Linked DNA regions of Homo sapiens: regions 2, 3 and 4 are each reported to be linked to region 1. Evidence: microRNA targets listed by miRTarBase, many of them from high-throughput screens and not tested one by one. Region 1 holds a microRNA gene; each other region holds the end of a gene's coding sequence.

Region 1 (3,185 bases):
ACAGGACTTCTCATATGATTTAAAATTACTAAGTGATTCTTTTTCCTCTCCCTAATGAGTTGGTAGAGGTCAATTCTTTGCAAAATGAGTAAATTGAGAGAAGCAGCCTCAGCTGTGCTGTTCAAGTGACCAGGCTGCCTTCCTACTGAGGGTAAATGGGCTTTCCTGAAACAATCCCTGCTTTCTGCTAGTGCTTGTGCTCCTGGCTCAGGAGGGTGTACTCCGAAGAAGCAGCCTGGCTTCAGAAGGAAAAGAAAGCAGCCTTTAATTTCAGCCCTAGAGTGATCACGCCCTTTTCAAACACCCTCAGGCTCCCGTGGGGCTAATGTTCAGGGGAGGCCAGAATTCGACAAGCTCAATAGCACTGTGAGCCCACACCTGAATTTAGAACTTGGCCTGGGCTTTGGTGTCAGGACCCTGGCAAATCAAATCAGGCCTGAGGACAAGGCTGGAGAGTATCAAATACCTAATGAAGCAAACCGAGGTGCTTCTAAAAGGCTGAGCTGGGTACACATGAAAACAACAAAGCTTCCGTACCTTACTGGAAAAGACACTGCTTCATATCTGCCAATGAAATAGAAAAGTTGTCAGCCTAGCGGCTCGTATCCGCAAAGCGACCTTTTTTTTCTCTCTCCCTTCCTACTTTTTTCCTTTCTTCCTTCTTTTCTCCTTTTCCTTCCATTCCATATGGCTATTTTTTTTTTTTTTTTTTTTTGGGAGAGGATTGCCTGGCAGTGTCCCAATTCTAAGTGACAAGGAGAACCCTGACCCTGTAAGTTCTTTAACAAAATGGAGATAATTTTTATTTTTGATTTGAAGATACTATGAAATAGGGAGCACCGCAAAAACAAAGTTGCTTAACATTCTTGAATCTAAACTGACATGACGGGACGTTTATTAACGGCCGATCTCAGAGGTGGATTTTTGCCTTTGTAGTGGCATTCATGCTTCTTGCTATTAAATGGTCACAGAACTATCTTAGAAGATTTATGTAGACTCCCAAAGCAAACTGACTGTCTCCTAACTGTAGTGGAAATTTAGTATGTCCAATCATCAACTTTCTGTAAGAAAAAAGGGAAATGTCTGGATCTGTGGACAGTGGGTTCTGAACTGCATGAGAACCCTGGTGAAACGTTTTGCTGTCCCAGCTGCAGGCCAAACACTGCTCTCTCACTGTAGCTGATAACTCACTACCCCGAGAGGCACAGTGACTCATCAACTTTCAGTTTGGACCAACATCTATGGATAGAGAACAAAAAGGAAATACATAACTTATATCTCACTAAGTATTCATGAACCAAAAATAAATTCTATTTCTATGTTATATTTACACAATTAGAAAAATCTAAAATGAGATGGTAAAGTCATATAAACTTTGTTTAAGCCCCACTGAAAATAAAATGAATTGATCCCTATGATTGTCATTCTTAATTTCCATGGATATTTAGAGCCAAACTTGGCTAATAAATAAACTGCTTATACACAAAATTTAGATTCAAATACAGCATTACTGTTTGATCCAATGAAAAAGACGTTTACAATCAGATCATTCCTGAATAGCCTTTCATTTTTAAGAACATGGCTAAAAGTAAATGAACCCCAGTACTGAGGCAGAGCTGGAGCTAAAACAAAGTGTTCATACACACATGTATTTTGCATAAATAAATGAAATAACAAGACATAAAAATGACTCAAATCCGGCAACTGTGAGGCAAGCCCACACGAGTCGAAACAGATGACTTTTGTTCATGTAGTTTTCGTACAACAGTTTCACATTAGTCAGAAGTGATAAAAAATACCATTTATATCCAGTGCTTATAACACTTACGAAACAACATCTGTGAGTGTGTGTGTTTTTTGTTTTTTTTTACTTACTATGAGCAAAATCAAGTTTCAGTCCTAAAGAACAGTCCTTTGTTCTCCACCAGCCCAGAATATTATTTTGGCATGGTCATAAAAACAAACAAAATTAACCTACTATGCTAAATGTTTGCTTTTGTGCAAAATTAATTACATACAATACAATGCTAGCCATACAACACTCTACCAATGCAACAAAATAAGAAAGAAGTGAGAGAGAGCAAAAGCAAAAGCCAAAGAGAAAGAAAAAAAACAAGAGTGAACTGAGGAGGAGAGGTATATAATCAAAGAAATCAGTAAGACAATAATAAATACTCATTTTTTGAGAGAAAAAATGACCTCCTCCTCATTTGAAATAAATGTACAAAAACAAATTTCTAATCCCCAACCAACATGAATAACAAAGAGTTCCTATCAGTACCTTAATCAGCTTATAGAGAGCACTCCCAGCTAACAGAATAGCTTGTAATTTCTTGGCTAGACCTGTTTATTGCTATTAGGCCTTGAGCACTCTTAAATAAATACAAAGGTACACTATTTTCTTCCAAGTGACAAAATGGCTCAAGAAATCTGATGGGGCCATTCCTATGTCCTGGTGATCAGATTCTGGGTTGTCCCATGAGGTGAACTATCCCATTCACTGACATTCTCCCACTAAACCTCTCTGGGGGAAGCCCCCCGATAGACAACCTGTCCTAGTTTCAGGAAGGCCAAAATGACATGGCAGAGCTCCCTGTAGTTAGGAGATGGGGAATAAAACCTCACTGCTTCCCACCCCAGTAGCATGTCTTCAAAGAAATCCTTGTGTGATAAGTGCAGTTCATTTTGTTCACACGTAGGCAGGTCCCCATGTGGCTACAGATAGAGTCAGCCAGAGGAACTCATCTGCTGCCCCCGGAGCTATCTGTTCCCCAGAGTTAACAGTAGGAACATCCCATATAGGGAATGTATTCCCCTCCTTCTCCTCCCTTACAGTTTTCTTTCATTCTCTAGATGTATCATGACTATTTGCCACCATCTTTGCTCTGAGGCTGTCATGTGGCTTTTTGCATCCTGGGGATTTTGCAATGAACTCCCTAGATGTGCCAGCTGGGACAAGGCAACTCAGTGTAAAGGTGCCAGCCCATGACAGCTTCACTGAGATTCCTGCATGGCCCACGAGCCTTGGGCTTCAGGTTTGGCCGCAGGACTCTCCTGCCTGGCAGTCACCACTGTTGAACCTTGCTGCTGAATGGAATTCAGGGGGAAATGCCACTGATGCAGACCCTACCACTTGTGAACTGAATTAGGGGAAAATTCTGGCAAAAGACTTGAGGTCACAGTGA
Region 2 (3,185 bases), not on the chromosome of region 1:
AGAAATGCCATCCTGACCCAGTGGGACAGAACATTGAAACCTTTAAAAACTCGAATTGTCCCTGATTCCTCCAAGCCTGCCTCCATGTCACATTATTTAAAAGCCTGGGGGGCACCTGTCCTACTTGCCTCTCTTCTACTTATCTGTAAATCTTCACTTTTCTTGAAATTGGTGAGAGATAAACTACAGGACAGAATGTCCCCTTACCTAGTAAGTCTTTGGCGAGGATGAACCTGATTGTTACAAGGGTTACACAAAGTCATGCTAATTCTATCTCCAAGTATCTTGTGCATCCCTCCTCTGCTCTCCATCATAACTGCTATTAGCCAAATTCAGGCCCAGTCATCTCCTATCTGAATTATTGTATTATCTTCTTCTTTGTTTTCAGTACCCTCTTTCTTGCCACCCTTTCCAATGCATCTTCTACCCTGCTACCTCAGTGATTATTCTAAAATAAATATATATGATATGGTTTAGCTGTGTCCCCACCCAAATCTCATCTTGAATTGTAGCTCCCATAATTCCCACATGCCGTGGGAGGTAGGTAATTGAATCATGGGGGCAGGTCTTCTCCCATACTGTTCTCATGGTAGTGAATAAGTCTCACTATATCTGATGGTTTTATAAATGACAGTTCCCCTGCACAAGCTCTCTCGTGTCTACCACCATGTAAGACGTGTCTTTGCTCCTTCTTCACCTTCCACCATGATTGTGAGGCCTCCCCAGCCATGTGGAACTGTGAGTCTGTTAAACCTCCCTTCCTTTATAAATTACCCAGTCTTGGGTATGTCTTTATTAGCAGCAATAGAACAGACTAATACAATATGGTTTATTACTCTAAAGTAAATATATGGTTTATAAATATATAGGAACCTCTGATTCCCAGGAAGGTCTCAGTAGGAACAAAATGGCATTCAAATTAAGTTGAGAAAATTTTTTCCATCACCCAAACTGGAACACAGTGATGCAAACATAGATCACTGCAGCCTCGAACTCCTGGGCTCAAGCTATCCTCCCACCTCAGCCTTCTGAGTAGCTGGGACCATGACTGGCTAATGTTTTTAAAGGTTTTCATAGGGACAGTGTGTTACTTTTTCTTTCTTTTTTTTTCTTTCTTTTAAAAAAAATACGGCCAGGGTCTCGCTATGTTGCCCAGGCTGGTTTCAAGCTCCTGAGCTCAAACAATCATTCTGCCTCAGCCTTCCAAAGTGCTGGGATTACAGGCATGAGTTATCATGTCCAGCCTCACTATTTTTTTTAGATCTCAGATCTTGAACTCTTGGGTTCAAACAAACCTCCCTCCTCCACCTCCCAAGTTGCTGGGATTACAGACATGTGCCACCATGCCTGCCTGGAAATTTTAATATAGAGATTATTTTAAAAGATATGGGCAGAGTGTAGGAAGATCATAGAGATAATGAAACACTCCCAGACTTGTAACCTTTACTATCCATAGACCTAATGAGGCAAGAGAATAAAGCAATTACTAAAGAGAAAAAGCAAGCACTGCGTAGAGGGCCACCTAACAAGAGCAATGACCTTCAGCTGAGTGACAAAGGCAGGTGCACGATGACTACAAAAGTAGAGATCTGGGGGAATAAATTATCTAATCTTACTCTCTTCCCACTCTCTGATCCCTTGCTAGTGCTCCCCAAGGGCCAAACCAAATGAAAGTCAGAAGGCAAGGTTGCCAACAGATTTTATCCACAGAGGTCAGGCTCCTAGGGCACAGAGCAGAGCAAAGATGATGGAGAGGATATATGGTGAGGCACACAAAAGGGATCCAGTTTGATCATGTCACCCTCCCATATAAAATCCTTCATTCTCTATCTTGATTAGAGATAATAGTCCTTGGCTGGGCACAGTGGCTTATGCCTGTAATCCCAACACTTTGGGAAGTTGAGGCGGGCAGATCACTTGAAGTCAGGAGTTCAAGACCAGCCTGGCCAACATGGTGAAACCTCATCTCTACTAAAAATACAAAAATCAGCTGGGCGTGGTGGTGCGTGACTGTAATCTCAGCTATTTAGGAGGCTGAGGCAGGAGAATCACTTGAACCCAGGAGACAGAGGTTGCAGTGAGGCAAGATCACACCACTGCACTCCAGCCTGGGTGACAGAAAGAGACTCTCTCAAAAAAAAAAAAAAAAGAAGACATAATAGTCCCATATTCCTTAGCATAACATAGAAGGCCCTTCATGGTCTGAGTCCCTTTGCCTGGGTCAGCAGGATGCCTGTTATTTCAAACCCTCCCATCCAGCACTACCAAACTATGAACTTTCATAACTCCTCCCTTTGGCATCAGCTCTTGCCTCTGCCAGGCACACAAATCTATACCGTGCCTGACTGATGAGATCCTATTTATCTTTCAAGAGAGCTCAGTGCTCTCATTCTGTGCAGCCTTCCCTAAATCCCCAAAGCAGAAATGGTCACCCCTGTGTAGCAGCTGCACCTTGTGTATGCTCTGGTGCTGCTCTTTTCTTACTATAGTATCATTTTCTTTTTGTCTGTCACCTAACAAATGGTGAGTTCCTAAAAGGAATCATATCATGTTCATCGGACACACTGCCTGATATGAAGCATTGCTAAAGAAGTATTTGATGAATCGACAGTGGCCTTGCCAGCTGGCACTCTTTGTTTTCTCTCTTCTACCTACATTCTTGTCTTCTGCCAACATGATAAATTACCTCAGCCTTGCAAACAAACAAGAACAGTCCGCCAACAGCTAATGTTATAAGTAAAGGACAATCCAAGTGGCAATTAGAAGAAATAGAACTATACAGTCCAGTACTTGCACAGGAGCGAAGTACACTGGTTAAGAGCACTAACTTGAGAATGAGAACTCAACTTGTTAGCTATGAAGTCTTGGCCATGTGACTTAGCCTCTCTAAGCCTTAGTGTCCTCATCCGGAAAACAGTGGTCATAATAGGGCCTACCTTACTGTGAACATTAATGAGAAAATGCACGGTGTTTGGTCCAAAGTAAGTTAACTACTAATAGCTGCAGAATCGGGGACATTTTCTATTCTCTGAATTAAAGAAAGGACTTGAAACTATTGCCAAATCCCATTCCCTGTTGTGTAATCTGGAGGCATGGCCTTTGCTCTCCCTGGATTCTCTGGCAGCACTTTCCAGTTAACGATCGTTTTTGTTGTTGCTGCTGCTACTGATAAACGGACATGTTTA
Region 3 (3,185 bases), not on the chromosome of region 1:
TCAACTTGAAACAGCTCAAAGCAAGAAGCCTTTGAAAATGGGACATATAACAAATTTTCTTTAATTCCTTTTTCTTCTTTTGTCAGATAAGTGAGTTTGAATGTTTTTGTTAAACACTCCTGCCTCCTGTTAAAATGGTGAGAGGATAAACTCTGGGCCTTTCCTTTACATTATCTGTAATCTCTTCGATTTAGGATGTCTGAGCTTTGGAAGTGGGGAGGGCCAGGGAGTTGGGTTCTGGTGGATCTGGAAAACGACAGGATGAAGCAACACTTCACCAGAGCAAGGCTGAAGGTTTCTCTCTGGAAAGGATTTTTTTGTTTGTTTGTTTGTTTGTTTGAGATGGAGTTTCACTCTTGTTGCCCCGGCTGGAGTGCAATGGTGCGATCTTGGCTTACTGCAACCTCTGCCTCCTGGGTTCAAGTGATTCTCCTTCCTCAGCCTCCTGAGTAGCTAGGATTACAGGCATGTGCCACCACACCTGGCTAATTTTGTATTTTTAGTAGAGATGGGGTTTCTCCATGTTGGTCACACTGGTCTCAAACTCCTGACCTCAGGTGATCTGCTCGCCTTGGCCTCCCAAAGTGCTGGGATTACAGGCGTGAGCCACTGTGCCTGGCAGATTTTCTTAACATAGGTTATGAGGCATACAATGTTGGGCTGGGAAGAAAATGAGAGGTGAGGGATAACTTGGGAAGTTATAATAATTTTACAGTGAATAACCGTCTTTTTTTCTGGTAAAATATTTATTTCTTTCTTCAGCAAGATGTCTGTATCAGTTTGTCTGGGCTTCTGCTCTAAACTGGCCTCCCTCAGGACCCAGGCTAAAGGAGCAGCCTCCATGGGGCATGTTGCCAGTTATCACAGCCCAGGGAAGCAGGGCAGTGAATTGACCCAGGCTCTCAAAGCCTCCACCTGGAAGTGGCATATTTCACTTCAGCTCAGATGTCACTGGTCAAAGGATGGGCACACTCAACTGTAAGGAAACAGAGAAGTAAAGTCCTACCATGCATTTGACAGGATTATAGAATAGCTCCAATAGACCACATTTACATACATGTTTTGCCAGCCATAAACTCCTGGAAGGTAAAGACTGTGACTCGTTCCTCTTTGCCTCTCTCTTGGCAACAGCCTGCGGTAGAAGTGCAATACATGTTAGGTGACTGCCTGCCTGATTGTGGAACTTAGCAAGTGACTGGAACAAAATGGGAATCAAAGCCGGAAAACTATGTCTCCTGTTTCTCCTCCCCTTTTGGCACCTCTTTGCTTCTGCCAGGATTCTGACTCTGAAATTGATTGCCTCAATGATCCTGGACCATCATTTAGCTACTGTAATCCTCAGTTCCTGCAGTTGGAAAGGGGGAACATTATTACTCCCATGTAAAGATAGAGTAAGATGGCATCTCTGAAAGCCAGGGTTGATGAAGGCTTGTGCCTCTGGCTGTTGCCCAGTGCCCGCTCTGGGGACCTTGAGTGCCCATTGCCATATGCTGAGCTACCCTACTGGGGCCTGCTGTCCTCAAGTGAGGTCCTACATGAATAAAAATCTTTGTGAGAGTCTACCTTAAAGGTTCAGGCGTTGACTATATGTGTGTATGTAATTTATATTCAGGAATACAGGAGGTGGTCATGGGAGTCGGTGTGGGTCTCTGGGATATGACTACTTTTACATCATAATCCCAAGGAATTGTTGGTTAAATTGTGTTCAGAGATTACAAGAATACTGGGTTTTATTTTTTTGTTAAGTCAGATTTATTTAGGTATAATTGACATACAGTACAATTCACTCTTTTCAGTGTGCAGTTCTATGAGTTTGACAAATGCATGCAATCTTGTAGCCACCACCTCACAATCAAAATGGAGACCATTTCCAGCCCCCTTAAAAGTCCCCTTGGCCAGACTTGGTGGCTCAAGCCTGTAATCCCAGCACTTTGGGAGGCTGTGGGCGGATCACCTGAGGTCAGGAGTTCGAGACCAGCCTGGCCGACATGGCGAAACCCCGTCTCCACTAAAAATACAAAAAAAATTAGCCTGGCATCGTGGCACACGCCTGTAATCCCAGCTACTCAGGAGGCTGAGGCAGGAGAATCACTTGAACCTGGGAGATCGAGGTTGCAGTAAGCTGAGATCGTGCCATTGCACTCCAGCCTGGGCAACAAGAGCAAAACTCTGTCTCAAAATAAAATAAAATAAAATAAAATAAAATAAAATAAAAAACTCCCCTTGTGCCATTTGTGGACAGCCCCATTTCCCACCCATATCCCTGGCATCCATGGACCAATTTTTTTTTTTTTGCTTTTTATAGAATGTCAGTAAAGCTTTTCTGACCTTTGAACTCCGATCAGGTGATAATCTCTTTTAGCATCCTATAGCCCTTATTTCAATTCTAATTATACTGTGTATGCAATTATTTAAAAATTGTTCAATGTCTATCTCTTCTGCTAGACTTCTGCAAACATGTCTGAAGGAAGGAATTGCCTGGCCAATTCATTACTGTATCCTCAGCAGTTCCATCAAGTAGATGCTCAACAAATGTTTAGTGAATAAATGAGTGACTCAATGACTATAAGTAGAGTGCTCTAGGTCGCTACTGACTCAGCAAAAGCCATTTATTATTCAGTGGTATCAAATCTATCCTATTGTAAAGCACACAGAGACCTTATCATTCAAACATTCTTGAAGTGTATGGGTAAATATTTGGAGTTACATTGGATCTGAATACCAGCAATCAGAACCATCCTAGGCAATTTCAGATGCATGATAGATATATTCAATTAATCAAAAATAAGATGGAAACATTTTAATAACACTGTCTTTTGCCATTATTTTATACAGCATATTTAAAACTGTTCATTTCATAATTTTTACATTCCGTATATTTTGTAGCAGATCTGACATGACAGTGATGCTTAAGAGCAAGATCATGAAGTCTTCAAAATCTAGCTTATTTTCTGTGTGCTCATCAAGTTCAGAAAGGATCTCTCTGTATTTTGGCTTGGTTTCTTGTCCCTGTGAGAATGGAGAAATAAAAACCGAATTCGTTGTATAGACTTTAGGTTTACAGATCATAAACAATAATGTCTTAGTCTGTTTAGTGTTGCTGTAATAGAATACCTGAGACTGAGTGATTTATAAAGAAAAAAGAAAAATTTGGCTTACAATTCTGATGGCTGGAAAGTTCAAGA
Region 4 (3,171 bases), not on the chromosome of region 1:
ATTGGGTGATAATAATGTATTTATGTTAAGATGTTTTGATTAAAATACCTAATTTTGAGGAAATAGTATCTAATTTTTTGGTTTGGGGATTATTTTTAGATCAAGAGGCTGGAGATGGAGTCCTGAAGCCAGAAGGAGGAGGCATGCTTTCAGAAGAATTAAAATGGGCATCCAGACCTGAAAGTATGAAATTAAGTGGAAGAGAAAGAGAAATGGACAGTTCAGCAAGCAGCTTAAGAACACAGCCAAATCCTCAAAAGCTCTGGGAAGATATCCCAGAATTACCTCCAATTCATAGTTCTTTAGCACCCCCCAGTGGGCATATGTTAGGTAATGAGAATAAAACAGAAACAGATGATAATCAGTTTACAAAATCTCACAGTCGACTGTCATCCCAAATTCAGGTTGTGGGAAATGTGGGACGACTTCATGGTGTCACACCTGTAAAACTGTGTCGAAAAGAATTACGTCAAATTTCCGCCTTGGAACTATCATTGCGACGTTCCAGTCTTGGAGTTGGCATTGGATCAATGGCTGCTGATTCCATCGAAGTATCTAGGAAACCAAGGGACTTAAAAACTTAGACATTGAATAATAGAACTTTTAGTAGATATGTAAAAAGATTCCTTTTTCTAACCTGTTAAAAACTAAAGCTCAAGTTCACTACCTCTTTCCTCAGAATAAAGGAAGAAGGGGAGGAAGGAATCCCTAATTCTTTTATATGCTATAGATGTGTACATCTTCTATATATATTTGGGGAGTTTTAGTTTATATTCCCATAGTAATCAAACATGTTTTCCAATACTTGATAACATTTAAATATTTATAAATACGCTTAAATGTTTTTCCAGGCATATTTGAAGATTAAAACTAGTAATAGACTAAAATATCTATCAAGTATGTATTATTATATAATATAAATGTACATCATAAAAGTATGTTACAATATAACTATATTATTGTTATTCTCAAATACAAGTATATTTTTTTTTTAAAAGATCCAGCTAAATCTTGCTTTTGTCAGAGGGAGTCACCTGCTGCATATGTGGGCTAAGACAACCTCTCAGCTTTATGGATTGAGGCTCATTTACAGTCCTCAGAACTCACAGAAACGGTCAGTCCTGACTTTTTAAACATGCTCACTGTTCTGTTTCTGGAATTTTTTTGGATTTTTAAAAATTTATAATGCTATCTTTTATGTTTGCTAATATTATGCAATATAAGTTTTCATGTCTTTCCTGCTCTATACACTCAATATATCTCTCATTATGTTACTAAAACTGGGAGAAATGAATGCTGTTCCATGGAACACGGAAATTATAGAATAAAACTAAAGCATTCTAACATTTCAAGAGAAAGAACACTGGTTATGACATCTCTGGTCACATGGAGTATGTCTGTAAAGCTTGAAGTCTTGCCAAAGCATCTTTAATGATTTGATGGGCTTAAGTCTGATATTTTTTTCTATAACCTCCTTAGTCAGGCTTTGCACACCGGCCAAACTACACTGGGGCTGTAAATATGTCAATGAAATTTTTACTAAAATCTCCAAGTTTTTCTGGTCAAAATTTTACTATATAATGTACAATTTAGTTTGGAATTAAGAACTAAACAGTTTGCACACCAAATGTAGTTTGTACTTTTTAACCATATTTTTCAGTTATAGGAAACATCCATTGTAATGACCTGAGGAATTATTTTGTTACTTATGTTGTTCTTTGTTACTTTTCCAAAACACTTGTAAACCGAAGTTGAGTTTCTTAAACTAATTAATGTTTTGTTGGGGGCTGTAGCAAAACCATCCTGACATGGATGCTTACTCAGAGTCACCCACTTCCTTGCTGAATCCATTTTTTTCTGATGTAGTGCTGCTACAGACCTTTTCCTTTTGTCCTTTCCTCTGTTGCTGTGGATTTGATCATCTCACATAGGACCCAAACTGTCACCCTGTGCTCAAAGACTTAAGGCTTCCTTTCTCTCATTGCTAGCCCCTAGGGAGTAGAGTTTCTTGGTCTCCTTGCTAAAAACCAGTTCCTTTAGGAAACAAACCAAAACAAAACAAACTTATAAAAAGGAAAATATCTCTTAAGCATGGTACTAAAATTTATTTAAATTAAATAGATTTCTGTGGACTTACCTGGGAATGAAACAATTTATAAATATTGGTCCAATGAGATACTATTTTCTAAATTTCAAAAAACTAATTTACAAACTTAACTGGGAAATTTTATTTTTACCAGGAACTGTTTGAAGTCAGATTCTGGTTTCCAGCTAGTCTTCCATTTTTATAAATTTATGTACATTTATATATAAATATAAATCATACAAACCAAAGGTAAAACATACACATTATAAATATGTATAAATGCACTGACCTTTTGCCATTATTATATATATTTCATATATATATATGTATATACACTTGTACATATACAAGTATATAAGGAAATGTGTTTGTATTTCCATAAGTAAAACAAGTATGTGTAAATTAATTATTTCTAACTAAGGCATAGCACATAATCTTACAAGGAACTTATAATTAGGATCTTTGTTAATAAATACATATTTATTTAAATATATTATTGCTGTGCTTTGTTGAAGGCACTGACCTTTTACCATTATATATACTTGTATATAAACACTTGTATATATATAGTATTATATATATACTTGTATATAGATATAGGTTATACATTTTACATTATTTCACTTTATATTATTTCATATCATATTTTATATCATGATATATCATTATATAGCTATAATGTATATATAGATACACTTGTATATATACATAGATATAGATATATATAATGGCCAAAGGTCAGTGCCCTTAGCAAGCACAGCAATATTTATAAATAAATATTTATTAATGAAGATCCTAATAATAAGTTCCTTATAAGATTAAGTAATGTGCTATGCGTTATTTAGGAATAATTCATTTAAGAATGTATTCTGATACTGGAATCCTACTTGCTCAAGAAATTAACACATACTTGTTTTACCTGTGGAAATACACATTTCCTCAAAGCCAACTCACTAATAAAGCAAGAAAATTTATATCAAAACAACAATGATTAGGTTTGACTATGCAATTGTGAGTTGATTTCTAAATAACAAAGGTATGGTGTTTTTCTTCCTTTTGGTTAAACATATATCCTTTATATATAT

What was found. Region 1 holds the annotated microRNA hsa-miR-6073 (GGUAGUGAGUUAUCAGCUAC, at 1,176-1,195, opposite strand). A microRNA usually pairs through its seed, bases 2 to 8, with sites in the 3' UTR of a target mRNA and lowers its output. Matches are read on the target gene's strand: a 7mer-m8 pairs with bases 2 to 8, a 7mer-A1 pairs with bases 2 to 7 and ends in A, and an 8mer does both.
Region 2: the mRNA of FMO4 is a reported target of hsa-miR-6073. The part of its 3' UTR that is shown has no 7-base or 8-base seed match.
Region 3: the mRNA of SNTN is a reported target of hsa-miR-6073. The part of its 3' UTR that is shown has no 7-base or 8-base seed match.
Region 4: the mRNA of KIF27 is a reported target of hsa-miR-6073. Seed matches in the 3' UTR shown: 7mer-m8 at 661-667.

The regions. Positions count from the first base shown.
Region 1 is chr11:15,968,380-15,971,564 of GRCh38, forward strand. It overlaps MIR6073 (microRNA 6073), which reads right to left and starts at 1,242; the gene lies at 1,154-1,242. It overlaps SOX6 (SRY-box transcription factor 6), which reads right to left. Exons shown (of 16, transcript NM_001367873.1): 16 at 1-3,185.
Region 2 is chr1:171,341,609-171,344,793 of GRCh38, forward strand. FMO4 (flavin containing dimethylaniline monoxygenase 4) reads left to right here. Exons shown (of 10, transcript NM_002022.3): 10 at 1-476. The coding sequence ends at 231. Among named protein-coding and RNA genes, the nearest start is that of FMO4, 29 kb to the left of the region's middle.
Region 3 is chr3:63,663,761-63,666,945 of GRCh38, reverse strand. SNTN (sentan, cilia apical structure protein) reads right to left here. Exons shown (of 4, transcript NM_001080537.2): 4 at 1,734-3,009. The coding sequence ends at 2,851. Among named protein-coding and RNA genes, the nearest start is that of SNTN, 13 kb to the right of the region's middle.
Region 4 is chr9:83,834,414-83,837,584 of GRCh38, reverse strand. It overlaps KIF27 (kinesin family member 27), which reads left to right. Exons shown (of 18, transcript NM_017576.4): 18 at 100-3,171. The coding sequence ends at 584. It overlaps LOC101927552 (a long non-coding RNA gene), which reads right to left. Exons shown (of 6, transcript XR_001746793.2): 5 at 1,880-2,034; 6 at 2-555. Among named protein-coding and RNA genes, the nearest start is that of GKAP1, 18 kb to the right of the region's middle.